Linked DNA regions of Homo sapiens: region 2 is linked to region 1. Evidence: fine-mapped expression QTL. A gene starts in region 1. The other region holds a variant in brackets. All regions are shown on one strand. Distances are from middle to middle.

Region 1 (2,760 bases):
TGTGAAAAACATATCAATATATTAAGTTCCTTAGCAAATCACATCTAGATTAAGTTCATAATGCTTTTTTTTTTTTTAACTTTGCAAATCTCCAAACTTTTGCTACTTTCTTAATAAAATACAACAAAATTTTTGGCATTCCAGCCACGGAAAAACAGATCTCTACCTCTGAGGTGGCAGTAATCCAAGCAGTTACTAGGATCTACGAAACATGAGGCATAATTAGAATGTTGGGGAAAAAATCTACAGAAATATCTATATCTTCGTCATGAACCTGACTGTTGAGTTTATGAAAAAGTGGAAAAGGAACCTCACTCGTTCCTTCCCTGGTACCTTCACAGCGTCTCCCGTCCCAGTCTGCCTAGTTGAATCTAGGGACACTTAAAGGTAAATCCTAGCCTCTTGGCTGTCCTTCCGTCTCCCAGGATTCTGCTAGGCCGCACAGTTGGCAAGCTTAAAACTCCAAAGATTCCGCACTCTCCGTCTTTCAACAGTCATGTCACAGAGACACGAAGGTTAGCACAGGAACATTAGTTTCCAAACTCCTACCCACCGCAGAACAGGCGGGAAGGTTCGGTGGCCACCCGGCCTCTCCGCCGCGCACATGGCCGTCCGCAGCTCCCACCCCCGCTGCCGCGCAGGCGCCGGGCGAGCCGGGACTTGCGGTCGCCGAGAGCGGATCATTCCGCCGCTTTCTTTGTGTGGCTGAAGCGCTAGAAATGGCATATTTTCTTTCCCTTCGTTAAAAAATCAGACCCTCTTTCCCCTCTCTCCCCGCGGGAACACAGCTAGGGAGTGGGTAGGAGCAGGATCTGCCGACGAGGGCAGAGGCGGAAAATCCTCGGGCGATGAGCTGAAGAGGGCCGGGTCCGGGAGGGATGCTGGGAGCTTGACTCACTCGCACACCATGTGTCCCTCCGCGCGCAGCACGGGGGACTTTTCGGTGGGGATTTTGGGCGCCGACCAGACGCGGCATTTTCGGAAAATAGCGCCCTGTGCAGCTGAAGCGCTTTGTGTGTAGCGGGGCCGCGTCAGCCCGGCCGGGTACGAGGCGCCTCGGGTCCCCGCACCACCTCCTGCTGCCTTCCCGTCGCCGCTCCCGAAGCTTTTCCAGGTCAGTGCGGGTCTGTGTAGGGCCCTGTTACCACCGGATGTGGAAGTTGATCTCTTCGCTGGTAAAAAATAATTCCACTTCCCCCGGAACCCAGATCATCCCCGCGATTTCCTGTTTATTGCATTAAGGCGCCGGGTTTCCGGGGCTCCTGGCCCCGCTTATTCCGCGGGGGTCGGCGGGGTCGGCCTGGGCGCCCGCGCCGCCGCTGCGCTTTGTCCGCTGGGCACACTGCTTCTGGGAGGGGCGGGCAGACATGGTGGCGGCCGCCGCCCCCTCCTCGGCCCTAGCATGCCGCGGCCGCCTCGCGGCTACCCGGCTTGCCGGTCCCGAGCGGCAGCCCCGGGGTGGCGATGGGGTCGCGCCGAGGCAGCGGAGGTTCTGCGGGCGACTGGAGGTTGGCAGTGGGCGGGAGAAAGAGGAAGGCAGGCGCGGCTGGGCCTCGGCCTCTGGCGCCGCGGTACCCTTTGTCTCGGCAGCCTGACGGCCCCGCCGGGCTCTCCGGAGAGGGGAACGGGCGGCGAGGGTGGCGGGTCCTGGGCGCCCTGTGCTGCGGGGCCGAGAGGCGCTCGGGTCGCGGCGGGATCGGCCGGACCAGACAGGGTTAATGGAAGAGCCTGGCCAGTCCCGCGCGGGGCCCCCGCAGCGACAGCCTTGGCCGCGGGGACTGGAGTCCTGAGGGGGAGAAGCCTGCCGTTCTGAAGGCTCGGGACTTCTGCCCCAAAGACTTCGCCGCCGAGAACTGCGGGTGCACTGCCTCAGGGAAGAAGTTGAGAATTTTGCCAGGTCATCTCTGCCAGGGCACAGTTCATCACTGTGTGTTTAGTGTGTTTCGGTGAAGCTCTCCAAGTGTGTTGAATCAGCGTGCCTAGCCTCAAGGGTGCATCGTGAAAACTGAAACCAAAGGAATGATACAGGCCTGCTTTGTGTGTGTCTTCCCACTTTAAGCTTGTTTTCAGTACAAATACTCTTGCTTTAAACCTGATTGGACTGTGGCGAGCGGACATCTGTTCAAAGGAGGGGCCGAGACCACAGTACTTCTGAAGGGGGCTTGATAATGTGGAAACATTTTAAGTTTTCTCTCCGGACTGTTTTGCTCTCTCAATTCAGGCAAGTTACTGAAGTACGTTTTTTATCTAGAAAAAGGTTTGATGTAGTCTGTAAATGGTCCTTGTAAAGTACATTGCCATCTCAGAATTAAAAGATCCACTCTCATTTATTATGCAGAAGTTAGTGGTCATTCTTTCCTGTAGATAGTTTATCTCATGTAAAGACCCACCCAGCTTGGTTTAAATTTTTTTCTCACTGACGTATAACCATCAGCTTTGATACTTCCATTTTCAGGCTCAGACTTTGAATTTAAGGAAACTAAAGATGACTTTATTTTCTTTTCTCTTGGTTTTTTTTTTCCAAAAACAAAAAATAAATCCATTACATGTTAACATAGATGATAAGAGTGACATCTTGCATTTTTGCAAATCTTTTTAATGCCTGGTTTAATAGAAGATTCTCAGATCTACGTCAGACTGTTGTGGTTAGCACACCATGTAACCTCTGGAACACTCCACTGTACACTCATACTTTTTTAAAAAAAAAACCAAAAAACAGAAATGTGTCATTCTTACCGTGCTTTCACCATACAAGTCAAA
Region 2 (3,022 bases), 43 kb after region 1:
ATACTCAGATATCTAAACCATTTGGCAGTATGTATGCTGAATGAATGCAAACTGATTTTATATTACCTGTGTAAAACCTATTTAAAAATGTAGATTTTTGGAAAGATAAATTTCATCGTAAAGCCAAATTTATATCATTCAGAGTATAAATGCTGTATTTGTTAGTGTGACCAGTTTAGATTTTACCGTACTTCTGTAGGAGAGAGGTCGGTTTCTTTTTGCTTTATCCTGCCTTTAATAGGAAATTATTTTTGCAGGTTTCTTCCCTGTTGAATATGATGTTAATTTTTACTGTCCAGCAGTTACATATTATCTAGGAAAAAATGCCTCATTGGAGATCAGTAATCTCTATAGATCTTAGCGTCTTTAAGCAGGATTGAGGAGTATCTTGGCTTTCAGTGACTCCATCAAGGTATGAGAGAATAGGAGAAAAAAAGGAAAGGAAATCAGAAATTCAAGGATGAAAATGTTGCGAGTGTCACAGAGAAGTGTATTTAAAAAACCCATATAAATCCCACAAGTACATGTGGTTGTTTTTCCTATTCTTTACTACAGGATATAATATAGATTATTTTTTTTTTTTGAGATGGAGTCTCACTCTTGCCCAGGCTGGATTGAATTTTTAGTAGAGACAGGGTTTCACCCTGTTGGCCGGGCTGGTCTCGAACACCTGACCTCAAGTGATTCACCCACCTCGGCCTCCCAGAGTGGTGGGATTACAGGTGTAAGCTGCTGCGCCTTGCCATAATATAGATTATTTTTATCCTTACAAATGAAACAATTCTAAGAAATTCTTTCTTGCCTTGTGACGAAGGCCTGTTTGGGATATGTATATCTCACCTAATTATTGTGCAAGCCTCCAAGTATTAGTATCTGTCCCTGGTTACCTCTTCTGTGCTTGGTTATTCCCATCGTAGCTAATCTACTAAAAATTATAGGCATAATTCTGTTTATTTTCATGGACAGCTTTTCTTATAATTACCCCTTTTAGATTTCTTATCCCTTTTAATGATGTAGAACATTTTGTTTCTTTCTGGCAGAAATAACTTTTTCAAGCCCCATTTGCCAACTTCCTTCTCACACATACGCTCCTTTCTCTTCCTTATTGAGTGCAAGTTGAGTATCCCTTATCTGAAATACTTAGGTCCATAATGTTTCCGATTTTGGGTTTTTTCAGATTTTGGAATATTTGCATTAATACTTACTGGTTCAGCATCCCTAATGCAAAAATGCAAAATCTGAAATGCTCTAATGAGTATTTCCTTTGATGCTTAAAAAGTTTCAGATTTCAGATTTTTGGATTAGGGATACTCAACCTGTAATAGTTGTTCATACCAGGTAGAGATACACTAATCAACCTGCCATTACTCTCTTTATAATTTATTTTCTCTTGACTACTTACCTAACCCTCAGAGTATAT[A/C]CTTTTTTTGAGATAAATTTATACCCCAGGCACATTTTTTCATTGTAAATCTCAGGGATTCCATATATTCCCTTCCCCATGGGCCTAAAATTCTGCTTTTCCTTACTTAGGATACTGTATGACATAATTGAGTAATCTTCCAGCTGGATAGTCTTTCTGGGTTTGGAAACTTTCTTCTCAGAACTGTCATCCCTTGAATTTGAATGTTTGTGATACATTCAAATCTTAATTTACCTATATTCTACTGTCATAATCTTTTTTCTGACATATATTTCAATATTTCTTATTCAAGAAGACACAAATACATACACACCCATGCACACCTCACATCCCAGGCTGGGACATTAGCCTTTTCAGATATATTAAATTCAAGGCACAAGATATTCTTTCCTGGTTTTTTTTTTTTTTTTTGAGACAGAGTTTACTTTGTTGCCCAGGCTAGAGTGCAGTGGCATGATCTCGGCTCACTGCAACCTCCGCCTCCTGGGTTCAAGTGATTCTTGTGCCTCAGCCTCCTGAGTAGCTGGGACCCTAGGTGTGAGCCCCCATGCCCAGCCAATTTTTTATTTTTAGTAGAGATAGGGTTTCACCATGTTGTCCAGGCTGGTCTCGAACTCCTGGCCTCAAGGATCCACCTGCCTCAGCCTCCCAGACTGCTGGGATTACAGGGATGTGCCATCGCACCTGGCCTCTAGCCTCTAATGAGACAGTCTATTCGTAATACTATTACTGTTTTTAGTATTTTCATAGAATGTGAATTGTTTACTTTCTGCAAGAACTTAAATATACATTGCATGTAGGAGGGCAGAAAATTTGTTTTTTAAAATTTTGAACACATTTACTATTGCAAAAAAATTTATGCTAAGTTTAGTTTAATTTGCACCAACAACAGATGACAATATCTTGCACTTTATTTACTTTTATGAAAAATTTTATTGCTGCAAACCCTCCAGTAAAAACAATTAGTTGCCAGTTTTAAATTTTAGACCAGCTTGGCTGGGTGGGGTGGCTCATGCCTGTAATCCCATCACTTTGGGAGGCCAAGGCGGGCAGATCATTTGAGGTCAGGAGTTTGAGACCAGCCTGGCTAACATGGTGAAACCCTGTCTCTACTGAAAATAGAAAAATTAGCTGGGTGTGGTGGTGCATGCCTGTAGTCCAAGCTACTTGGGAGGCTGAGGCAGGAGAATCACATGAACCCAGGAGGCGGAGGTTGCAGTGAGCCAACATCGTGCCACTGCACTCCAGCCTGGGTGACAGGCCGAGACTCTGTGTCAAGAAAAAAATAAATAAATAAAAATTTAGGCCAGCTTTTCTCTGCTACTTACCTCTTCTATCTTTTACCAGATGTATTTGGAGAATTTAAACTACTTTTATTCTAAGTAAAAACTTAATGAGAAAGGAAAATGGATTCTAAAATCCAAATATAAATTGCTTTTGTATGATCTGTAATTTTAAATTAACCATAGCACACTCTTTTGAAGGGATAATTGAGAACTGACTTATTAATAAAGACAGGAAGGGAAAATGTCATGTCATAGTGTATAAATGGAGATTTTGATGTTCAGTTCATCTATGTTTTGTTTAGATGTCCCTGGTAGA

What was found. PIP is the estimated chance that this variant, and not a neighbour inherited with it, causes the effect. A credible set is the group of variants that fine-mapping cannot tell apart.
Region 2: its variant is the best candidate, but not a certain one, in a credible set for the expression of GABPB1-IT1 in whole blood (INTERVAL, PIP 0.64).

Annotation. Positions count from the first base shown.
Region 1 is chr15:50,353,339-50,356,098 of GRCh38, reverse strand. It overlaps GABPB1-IT1 (GABPB1 intronic transcript), which reads left to right and starts at 1,220. Exons shown (of 1, transcript NR_026891.1): 1 at 1,220-2,760. It overlaps GABPB1 (GA binding protein transcription factor subunit beta 1), which reads left to right and starts at 901. Exons shown (of 9, transcript NM_016654.5): 1 at 901-1,114. It overlaps GABPB1-AS1 (GABPB1 antisense RNA 1), which reads right to left and starts at 1,925. Exons shown (of 1, transcript NR_024490.1): 1 at 1-1,925. RefSeq lists enhancers at 348-427, 496-1,119, 1,858-1,917 and silencers at 628-677, 1,258-1,507, 1,518-1,727.
Region 2 is chr15:50,309,785-50,312,806 of GRCh38, reverse strand. GABPB1 (GA binding protein transcription factor subunit beta 1) reads left to right here. Exons shown (of 9, transcript NM_016654.5): 2 at 3,009-3,022. The coding sequence starts at 3,009. Among named protein-coding and RNA genes, the nearest start is that of GABPB1-AS1, 43 kb to the left of the region's middle. The variant A/C (reference allele first, on the strand shown) is at 1,421.